Homo sapiens: one gene and its partners. The protein of the gene in region 2 interacts with the protein of the main gene of each other region in a pairwise test. Each region holds a gene or a part of one and is shown on either strand. Other genes may lie near its edges.

Region 1 (3,500 bases), on a different chromosome or scaffold from region 2:
CCCAAAGTGCTGGGATTACAGGCATGAGCCACTGCACCTGGCCACTTTTTCTTTCTTTTTTTTTTTTTTTTTAAACATAGACTCTATTAATTGCTCTCTTACTGGTCATTTCACACCTGCAATGAAAAGCAAAAATACAGTCCCTTAGGAAGCCCAGGGCTCAAAAGATTCCAACTAGCTCTTACTTAAAAAAAAAAAAAAAAGTCCATATAATTTAAAAAAAAAAAAAAAAAGGAAAAAAAAAGATCTCCCATGCACCAGGGTTCAGATCACCCAGTTCCTAAAGCCCATGGCCTTACCAGTTAGGGGGCAGCTGGTGATGCTCTGCAGTGGTTTGAGATAACCTTCTGACTGGGTTCTTTCCTTCATTAGGTTTTGTTTGACCCACAAGCAGAAGCAAGCCATATACGGGTGGCTGCTGGGTGGTCAGGAGCTGGCTGGACGTGGCTGTCTCCTGGGAGTACTTGGCAGTTTCTTTTTTCTTTTTTTTTCTTTTTTTTCTTTCTGTCATTCAGGCTGGAGTGCAGTGGCACAATCTTGGCTCACTGCAACCTCTGCCTCCCAGGTTCAAGTGATTCTTGTGCCTCAGCCTGCTGAGTAGCTGTAATTACAGGTGTGCAGCACCGCGCCTGGCTAATTTTTGGTAAAGACGGTTTCACCTTGTTGGCCAGGCTGGTCTCGAACTCCTGACATCAAGTGATCTGCACACCTTTGCCTCCCAAAGTGCTGGGATTACAGGCGTGAGCCACCGCACCTGGTCATGGCCACGAATTTCTGAAGTAAGAGAAGTGCAGCAGTCCCTGTCAGCAGTGCAGACCTGAACCCAAGGGCCCAGCAGTGGCAGCTAAAAAACCTGTGTCTGCACTGACAGCACCCCACTCCCACCAGTGTACCAGGAAGTTGGAGTGCTGACTGCCTGGTCGTGGCCGGGTGAGCTCCAACGGAGGGATCCTGCGGCTTTGGGTGCGTCTGTGTGTGTTTTGGTTTGAACCTTACCGTCTCCATATAGGGTCTGTTGCCTTATAGAATCCTAGAAATCCACTTCCCTAGACTTCACGTGTTGTCCTTTCCCAGTGGAAACCGAGATTCCCTTTGCCTAACTGGCTTTAAAAGCAGAATTGGTGAGCCTCTGGCCTCAGCGCCGTTGTGCAGGACCCTGCCTTTGTTTGAAGGCAGTGTGGCTTATGTCCTTTGTGTTTCTGCTGTGGATAGGTGTCTTAGACAGTGGGCAGCAACAGTGCCCAGCCCATATGAAGACGCCGAGGCTGCAGGAGGCCGGGGCCATGGTTTGACAGGCAGGTGGGGGCAGACCCACGCCACCATCTCAGGATGTGTGCTGGCGAGTGCCCCCATGTCCACGTGCTTGCTTATGGCTGTGTCATTCACAGGACTGCCCACAGCCGAGGGCAGAGGATGCCCAGTCTCCTCACTCCCTGTGCTGGGGGGCGGGCCACACCTGGCAACAGCAGTGAGGTGGGAGGGAGCCTGGAGGGCCTTGGCTTCTCGCTGCTTCCAGGCTGGTTGGGACTCGTGGACGCACCCACCCATCCGTCCCAGCAAGCGATGGAGCCTGCAGAGGGGTCTGGGTGGATGTGGGTGCCAGCTGGGCTTGCAGGGGGGCCGGAGGGGGTGAGGGGGTGGGATCTGCCCACTGCTGTGTTTCCAGATGGGGCAGTCGGTTCCAGGACCGGGGTTTCCACTGGAATTTCCTCTGTGGGACCAACAGTGGTTTTCACTACATTCAGGATGGCGCTGGCCTGCTGGGCAGAGAAAGGTACCGCACTAGGGTGGATTTGGGTGTTGGCGAGAACATTGTGTAACCCCAGCTTGACACCTCCCTTTTGCTTTGAGTGTTCCTGAGGGAGGAAGCCCGCCTCTGGTGCCCGCCCCAAGGTGTCCCTGGCCTGGCTTTGACAGTCAGTAGGATGCACAGCTGACTTGGAAGCAACTCCATTTCCGTCTCAAGATTGGGACACGATTTGGTCCTCCACCCCTACCTTGTTATCTGGCCTCTCTGCTCCTGTTGCCTGATGGACTTGAGACCAGAAGGGAGTTCTCTTGGCCAGGAGTGCTCCCACCTGAGAGTGGAGGCCCCGCCCCTCCCCGCACACCCAGGGCCACAGCCAGCCCATTGCGCCACCGCCACTCATTTCTCATCTGAGCACGTGGGGGCACTGCTCGGCCTTCAGCTTTCCAGCGCCAGTGAAGACCCTGCTTTGGGTGTGCTTGTTTGCTGTAGGTAGCTTCTAAAATGCTGCATCTGGCTGGATGCGGTAGCTCATGCCTGTTAATCCCAGGACTTTGGGAGGCCAAGGCGGGTGGAACACTTGAGCCCAGGAGTTCGAGACCAGCCTGGGCAACATGGCATAACCCCATCTGTACAACAAAATTTTTTTAATTAGCCAGGCAGCCAGGCGTGGTGGCACATACCTGTAGTCCCAGCTACTCGGGAGGCAGAGGTGGGAGGATCTCTTGAACCCGGGAGGTCGAGGCTGCCATCAGCAGAGATCACACCACTGCACTCCTGCCTGGGTGACAGAGCAGGAACCTGTCTCAAAAATAAAAACTGTTGAATCCTACCTGGAAGTAACAGCTGGCCTCTCCCTTACCTCTCCTCTAAGACCAAATGGAAAAACTCCACCGAGAACTTTAGAAGGAAAACCCTCCTTTCCCCATTTCATAAGCTGCTCGTGCAGTCTTACAGTAACAGCTCATCATTTCATCCCTGGCGAGGCAGCCGTGACACTGGCACAGTCACAGGTGGCTTGGCAGCAACCCATGTTTAGGAGGCTCTTGTCCCACCCTCAGGGCACTGATTTCTCCCCAGTGCATGCCGTTTAATTAGGGCCTATGATTGAATTAGGAGGCTTTGCCTTAGCCTGGCTTAGTTACAGTGACTTTTTCAGGATAAAGAGTTCCGTTTGCCCAAGTCCAAGCCAGTGCCTTTTATGAAAGTGGTTCCCACCCAGGGGCGGGGTTAGGGTCCCCATGCTTGGGGGCACAGTCAGCCCATTACCAATGACTTTCATCTTTAATGTGGCCACATGAGATCGTTAACTAGTTGTTTATCCAACCAGAATGCAACCCTGCCTGTTAGGTTTGCTTATTTGTTTGCTGAAAGCTTTGAGCTGGGAGGAGTCTCAGTAGTAGGAAGAACTACGATTGCCTGTTCTTTTTCCTTGAAGTTTCCCGACAGTCCGATTTCCACCATCCTTCACTTGGAATTGCTCCCATCTTTGAAGGAGGCTGGAGGGAGTTACCTTCATGCTGGGCTGAGGTTCTGGGGTGGCTTGTTATGAATGTCTTCACTCGTCACTCCCATATTACGGCCAATGGCCAGGTGGCTCAGCTCCCCATGACTCTCCTCTGCACCGCAGCCAGGTGTGCCTGCCAGGACAGGCTGGGCGGACGGGACCTTCGCGTCTGTGCACACTGAGGGCTGTGCTTCTCGTTAGCCATGAAAGGAAGCTAGTTCCTGTCAGGCACATTCGGAGCTTCAG
Region 2 (3,646 bases):
ATGAAAAAGGAGCACAGGCCCGGTGCAGTGGCTCACCCCTGTAATCCCAGCACTTTGGGAGACCAAGAAGGGTGGATTACCTGAGGTCAGAAGGTCAAGACCACCCTGGCCAGCGTGGTGAAACCCCGTCTCTACTAAAAATACAAAAATTAGCCAGGTGTGATGGCGTGTGCCCGTAATCCCAGCTACTCTGGAGACTGAGGCAGGAGAATCGCTTGAACCTGGAAGGCGGAGGTTGCAGTGAGCCGAGATCACGCCATTGCACTCCAGCCTGGGCAACAAGAGTGAAACTCCTCTCAAAAAAAAAAAAAAAAAAGAAAGAAAAAGGAGCACAAACTTTCTAGTATGAGATGATACTGAGTTATTGTTAATTTTGTTAAGTATGATAGTGGTATTGTGGTTTTGCTAAAGGAAATAAGTCCTCAAGTAGGAGATAAATGCTGGAGTAACTACAGGTGAACTAATATGATGCCTGCAATTTGCTTTAAAGTAATCTACTTAAAACATCTGGAGGAGAGCCGGGTGCGGTGGCTCACACCTGTAGTCCCAGCACTTTGGGAGGTGGAGGCAGGTGGATCGCCTGAGGTCAGGAGTTCAAGACCAGCCTGGCCAACATAGTGAAACCCCGTCTCTACTAAAAATACAAAATTAGCTGAGCGTGGTGGCACATGCCTGTAATCCCAGCTACTTGGGAGGGTGAGGCAGGAGAATAACTTGAACCCGGGAGGCAGAGGTTGCAGTGAACCAAGATCATGCCATTGCATTCCAGCCTGGGCAACATGAGGGAAACTCCGTCTCAAAAAAAAAAAAAAAAAAAAAATTAGCTGGGTGTTGTGGCAGGTGGCTGTAATCCCAGCTACTAGGGAGGCTGAGGCAAGAGAATCACTTGAACCCAGAAGGCAAAGATTGCAGTGAACCAAGATCGCACCATTGCATGCCAGCCTGGGCAACAAAAGCAAAACTCTGGCTCAAAAAAAAAAAAAAAAAATCTGGAGGAGAAACATCTCAGTTTAAACAAAACCGAGAAAATGCATATAATTATTGAAGCTGGGTGATAGATAATGTGGATAACAGGCTGCTTATATTGTTCTTTTGATTTTAAAATTGGGGATAAGAAATGAGTCAACACATGCAAAATGCTCAGTAAGTGTTAGCGATTATTAACCTATCTAATCTTTACAGCAATCCCATAAAGTAGGTCCTAGTTAAGCTCCGTTTTTTTGTTGTTGTTTTTTCCTGAGACAGTCTCGCTCTGTCGCCCAGGCTGGAGTGCAGTGGGGCGATCTTGGCTCACTGCAACCTCCGTCTTCCCAGTTCAAGTATTTCTCCTGCCTCAGCCTCCTGAGTAGCTGGGATTACAGGCACGCACTACCATGCCCAGCTAATTTTTTTATTTTTAGTAGAGACGGGGTTTCACCATGTTGGCCAGGCTGGTCTTGAACTCCTGACCTTGTGATCCGCCCGCCTCAGCCTCCCAAAGTGCTGGGATTACAGGCGTGAGCCACTGCGCGTGGCCTAGCTCCATTTTTATAGATGGGGGAGCCACACTCAAAGAAATTAAAGCTGTGGTCCCACTGGAATGGTTGGAGGAATTAAATGGGTTAAAACATATGAAGTGCTTAGCATGAGGCCTGATGTATATCAATCAAGTGTTTAGCAAATATCTGCTGTTAATTTTGACATTACCACTTGCTGGAATGAACGTGACCAGCCATTCCTTCTTCTAGAACGGGAAGCTGCTTGCCGAGCGGGATGGAGTGAAAAAGAGAAGTCAGGAGCTGGCCATGGAGAAGGACACTTTGAAGGTGCCACTCCTTCCTAGTGCCTGACAACTTTCCACCACCCCGGGGCCATTTTTCCCATTTCCGGTTTTAGTGACTGCAGCCTGATAAGGGCAGGGTCTTCCATCAAGCTGTCAGGCTCCCAGGACCACCCAGGCATCCCTAAAATCCCTGAAGTCCTGGAACATCTCAGGAGGCTGAATACGTGGGGGTGCGAGAGAACAGGTGGGGCCAGGTGGAGGGCAGGACCAAGGGGAGTCCTGGGAGGCTGGATGGATGGACCGGCTCCTTTCTTGGCAGCGGCAGCTCTTTGAGTGTGAACACCTCATTTGCCAAAGAGACACCATCCTCTCTGAGGTAAGGGGCCCCGGGAGGGAAAGAGATTCGCTTTCCATGTGCACCAGCCACTTCCTGCCCCTGGTCTAGAAAGGGAAGTCCTACTTGGGTCTGATCCTTGGATGTGCAGCTGGAGAGACTGGAGGGTTTCCCCAGGTCCCAAGTGTGACCCCTCAGGGATCTAGAAGCCCTTCTGCCCGGTGCTCTCCCTTGTGCCCCAGCTCTTCCCTCAAGCTCACCCTGTCCCTTAACCCCCCAGCCAGTCCCCCCGCCACCACCACCCCCAGTGTCTTTGGGGAACTGGTCCCAGTCTCATTTGGCTTTCGGCTTTCCTAGCGCACTCGCGATGTGGAGAGCCTGGCCCAGACCCTGGAAGAATACAGAGTGACGACGCAGGTAACTCAGCGGCCCTCGCCACCCACCGCGGCCCTCGCCACTTCTCTTTTGCCATCTCTGGGACTTGCTGCCTCTCCTCCTCGTGCCTCTTTGTCAGTGGCCACATCTTGCTTCTTCCATCCTTGATGTATGACTGTATGACTGCATGTCTCCCCCTCTGTTTCTGTATCTGCCTTTTCACTTTTTCTCTGTTCCTTCCATTCACTTTCATTCTCTGTGGGTGTCTTCTCACACACCTCCTCTCCTTATCTTATTTTTTTTTTGAGACGGAGTCTTGCTCTGTCGCTAGGCTGGAGTGCAGTGGCACAATCTCGGCTCACTGCAACCTCTGCCTCCCAGGTTCAAGCGATTGTCCTGCCTCAGCTTCCCAAATAGCTGGGACTACAGGTGCATGCCAGCATGCCCAGCTAATTTTTGTGTTTTTAGTAGAGACGGGGTTTCACCATGTTGGCCAGGATGGTCTTGATCTCTTGACCTCGTAATCCACCCCTCTTGGCCTCCCAAAGTGCTGGGATTACAGACGTGAGCCACCACACCCAGCCTCCCCTCCTTATCTTTATGTGTCTCTGCGAGGCTCGTGTGGGTTCCTGTCTCTGCCTCTAGGTCTAGGCTGTCTGTCTCCCTAGGCAAGTCTTCTCTGTTTGGCTCTGGTCTTTACCAGTCTCTTAGCCCTCATGTTTCTCTTGCCTGTCTGTGAGTCTGTTTCCATCTATGTCTCATTTTTTCATGCATCTCTGCCTCTGCCTTCCTTCTTTTAATTGTCTTGGCTGTGCTTTTTTTTTTTCTTTCTTTTTTGAGATGGAGTCTGGCTGTGTCACCCAGGCTGGAGTGCAGTGGTGCAATCTCGGCTCACTGCAACCTCCACCTCCTGGGTTCAAGCGATTCTCCTGCCTCAGCCTCCCAAGTAGCTGGGACTACAAGCGTGTGCCACCATGCCCGGCTAATTTTTTGTATTTTTAGTAGAGACATGGTTTCACCCTGTCAGCCAGGATGGTCTCGATCTCCTGACCTTGTGATCTGCCCGCCTGGGCCTCCTGAAGTGCTGGGATTACAGGCATGAGCCACTGCGCCTGGCCTCTTGGCCTGTGCTTTAGCTTCTGGATTCCTGTTGCTCTCTCTCTTTGGCTTCCTAA
Region 3 (3,746 bases), on a different chromosome or scaffold from region 2:
GGTACCGCTTCTTCCCAGCCCCCGGGACTGCAGCATCAACTGTGGCTGGAGAGGTTGGGGTGGCTGGGGTCGCAGGGGGCACAGACCGCCGGGGGTTGACGGTGAAGGTGTGTCCACTGCGGCGGGGGGCCCCCACCCCTGGCCCTGCCTTCACCCCATAGAACAGGCGGCTCATGAGGGGATCCCCAGGAGGTTGGGGGGCAGTTGGGGCTGGGGGTGGGGGAGACAGAGGGGCTGGTGGTGGGGGCTGGAGCTCCACTGCTTCCTCTTCCTGCTGTCTCAGGCCTCCAGTCCCAGCGTCCTCTGGTGGGAGGGGGGAGGGCACAGAGCAGCAGTTCTGCAGGGCTCTCAGAGGCCTGCCCTGAGCCCCCGCCTCCTCCTTCTCAGCCTCCCCTTCTCCAGCCTCCACACCGGGAGATTCCAGAAGCTTCTCTGCTGACTCTGGAGGTTCTGGTTTCTGAGTTTGAGCCTCTATGTCCCTGGGTGTCCATTCTCGAGCCTTCCCGGAGTTCAGGGTCCATTTCCACCCTTCTGTTGGCTTCATGCCCCTCTCGCCATCTTCCACAGGCCTCTGCTCTGCTGCCTCCACTCCTGCGGAACTGTTGCCTTGGGCCTCCCTTGTCAGGGTCTCGGACAGCTCTGCAGTCTCTTTTGGAGCTACCCCTGGAACTGGCCACTCTTCTTTTCTCCCACATTCTTCCGAGTAGTCTTGTCTTTCTTCTCCTGACCTCAGCCTCCACTCTGTTGCCTCCAGTTGTACCAAACTCTGTTCCTGAGACTCTCTGGAGTCAGGTCTCCATTTATGGGCCTCTGTCAGGCCCAACTTCTGGTAGGCAGATTCCCCTGGGCTCAGTCTACTTTCCACCTCTTTTCTCCTGGGGCTTTGCTCTCGAGACTCTGCTAGTCTCAGACTCCGCTCTGGAGTTTCTCCAGGACTCAGCCTCCATTTCCATGCCTCTGACAGTCGGGAGCTCCTGTCTCCCACCTCTCCTGGGCTTTGCCTCCAGTCCCGAGCCTCCAGAGGCCTCAGGCTCAACTCTTGGGCTCCCCCTATCCCCAGCCTCCTCTCTCTGGTCTCCCTCGGACTTAGTCTCTCTTCTCTTGACTCTCTTCCCTTGGGGCTCTGATCCCGCATCTCCCCAGGGCTGGGTCTCCGCTCCCGGGCCTCCAGAGGCCCAGGCTTTCTCTCTGCTAGCAGCTCTTCACTCCGTTGTTGTTGCTGCTGCTGCTGCTGCCGCTCCTGCCGGATGAATCGGTTCTGGTGCACTGGCCCGATGGCCTCCAGAAGGACCGCAGACTCATCCGGGTCTGGAGGTCCAGCCTCTACAGTCCCTAGCACAGGGCTAGGCTCCCCAGGGGACAGCCCAAGCTTGGCCCGGCGGCGCTCCAGGAGCCCTCGTTTCCAGGCTGGCATCTGGGACAGGCGCTCCCGTTCTGCTTTCTCTCGGCCTCGAACGGACGCCTCCTCCTGCCGGCGCCGGGCTAGCAGCTGTAGCTTCCAGTCTGGGATGGTGGCCATGGTCGTCTTGAGGTGAGGGTAGGGAGCACTGGGGACAGAGAACAGGAAGGAGAGGCTCCAGAGAGTGAGACAGCCCGGGGGTGAGACTGAGGGTGGGAGGAGAGGAAGTGGAGGGGGAGAGGTGGGACACAAAGCAGGGCAGAGGGGCTAAGGATGAGGACAGAGGGAAAGACGGAAGGCAGAGAACTGGGGAAATGGAAAAAGTGAAGAGAAGTTGTGAGCCCAAGTTGGGGGTGGTGGGGGTGATGTGAGAGGAAGAGTCCGGATTGGAGGCAATGAGGGCAGGAGCCAGATGTGGCAGCACAGGGTTAATGCGTATTAAAGACCGTCTCTAGGATGTGAGAAAGAGAGAGAAGGGCGAAAAGGAAAGTTGGCGTGAGGGAGAAGAGAGAAATGTGGCAGGGGTGAGGGGAACCTGGGTGCAGGCCAGGCTGCCTCAGCGATACCCCAGGGAGGCTAGTGTGGGAAGGAAGGACCAGGAATCCCTGAAAGGACCAGGAGGCAACGGGACCTGAGGGGGTGTTGGGGAGGCAAGGAGGGGCGGAGAGCGAACAGGTCTAGAGGAGAAGGGAAACCAGGGAAGAGGGGAAAGGAGGGCGGCGGCAGCAGCCGGGCGCGTCTCAGCGCGGGCCCCAAAGGTCCCGGCTCCGCTTCCAGCACCGCTCGGGCCACGCCTCTCCCCAGCCCCCACCCCTCTGCCCCGCACTCCGCCCCCGAGGCGGGTCGGGGGAAATAGCCACCCCCGAGACTTTCGGAACCCGGGCGTCAGGGCTGCCAGCGCGTTCCCAGAACCCTGGCGTCCACCCCCACCCTGTCCTGTCACCACCGCCTGCCTCCCCCACCGACTGCCCCACGCGACCCCAGAGTGCCAAGGGCCGGCTCCATGTCTCTTCTCCCCGGCGCCTGCAAGTCCTGCGCCCCGTCCCCGCTCTCATGAAGCCGTGACAGAGCCGGCCGTCTCCACCCCGCTGTAGCCGCACAGACTGACAATCTCGGCACAAAGAGGAGACAGCCAAGGTCCGGGCCAGGGACGGGAGCAAGGACAGGGGCGAGGAGACACCCACTCCCCAAGTCTGAGCCCCTCAGTCAACTCACAGGCCGCGGGACCCCCGGGGGAGGGGGTGCGGAGGAGCCGGGCGTCCAGAGAGAGGAAGAGGAGGAGAGAGGGACCGAGGGAGATCCGGAGACTGGAGGGAGGGGAGGAGGGAGGGAGAGGAGGAGGGAAAGAGGCAGCAAAGGAGGAGGGACGGAGACAGAGACCAGGGGGCCGGGCGGGGGCGGCGACCGCTTTGTCTAAGGACAATGAGGAGAGGGAAGGGGGCGCAGGGCGGAGCCGAGGAGAGGGCGGGGCCTAGATCCCTCCCACCCCGCGTGGGACTCGCTGCGGGACTGCCCTCTTCTCGCCCCAACCACTGGTCCTCCGCTCTGTCCCCAGGGGCCCTCACCAGCTTCCCGCCCGGACACGCCAGGTGTCCAGATCCCTTCCCCCAGCTCGCCGACCCAGGGCGGTGGCCCGTGACTCAGGCCCCTCGTGGGACTTTGGGAGGAAGCGGCAGCTGCTCCGAGCGGGGCCCGCCCTTCCCATCTCCTGCCGCTCCTCCCTACGCTTTTGCCTTCTCATCTGGGTCTGTAGGTCCAGCCTCTGAAGTCCTTTGTTTTGCGGGGTCGAGGGCAGCCGCCAGGCTGTGGGGGGCTTTGTGGATGGGCGGCAGGAGAGGCGCTCAGAAGCCAGAGGTTTTGGATGCTCCCTCCCCTACCAGAGCTGCTGCCCCGACTCTTTCTAGCTTCAACCTGTCTCCCTTGGGTCTACAGGTCGGCTGCCGGGAAAAAGGGGATTTGAAGGAATGGGAATGGGGACCCGGCCGCTCTGGCAAAGTGGGGGCGGGTCTGCGGGGGTGGCCGAACCCCAGCGGTTGCCAGAGGGCGTGGTGGCTGCCCAGACTCCAGTTCGGTGCTCCCAGGCTCCCTCTGGCTTTCTTTCCCAAACTCAGCCCTGTAGCTTGGGAGACACTGACAGACTGCATGCCATATGTAGAAAAAGGCTGACTTTTATTTTCCTGCAGAGCATCTTCCTCGGGAGAGCAGGGAGCCCCAAGTCATCGAGTTAAGAGCAGGAGAATCCCCTTGACTAGGTTGGGGTCTGAGCCCAGAGGCAGGGCCTAAGGAGGTGCAGAGACTAGGGCCGGGAGTGGTGAGGCAAGGTTGGGGCCTGGAGGGACAGCTATGA

The links.
Region 1: the proteins of KASH5 (region 2) and TMEM11 interact in binary tests that used the Homo sapiens proteins (3 or more experiments, as listed by UniProt).
Region 3: the proteins of KASH5 (region 2) and PPP1R18 interact in binary tests that used the Homo sapiens proteins (3 or more experiments, as listed by UniProt).

The regions. Positions count from the first base shown.
Region 1 is NC_000017.11:21,200,695-21,204,194, reverse strand, and holds part of TMEM11 (transmembrane protein 11, mitochondrial), read left to right. Parts: intron 1-3,500. UniProt on the Homo sapiens protein: Plays a role in mitochondrial morphogenesis.
Region 2 is NC_000019.10:49,405,159-49,408,804, forward strand, and holds part of KASH5 (protein KASH5), read left to right. Parts: intron 1-1,727; coding exon 1,728-1,805; intron 1,806-2,081; coding exon 2,082-2,138; intron 2,139-2,453; coding exon 2,454-2,513; intron 2,514-3,646. UniProt on the Homo sapiens protein: As a component of the LINC (LInker of Nucleoskeleton and Cytoskeleton) complex, involved in the connection between the nuclear lamina and the cytoskeleton.
Region 3 is NC_000006.12:30,684,500-30,688,245, forward strand, and holds the start of PPP1R18 (phostensin), read right to left. Parts: upstream 2,147-3,746; 5' UTR 1,548-2,146; coding exon of another isoform or gene 1,520-1,547; coding exon 1-1,519.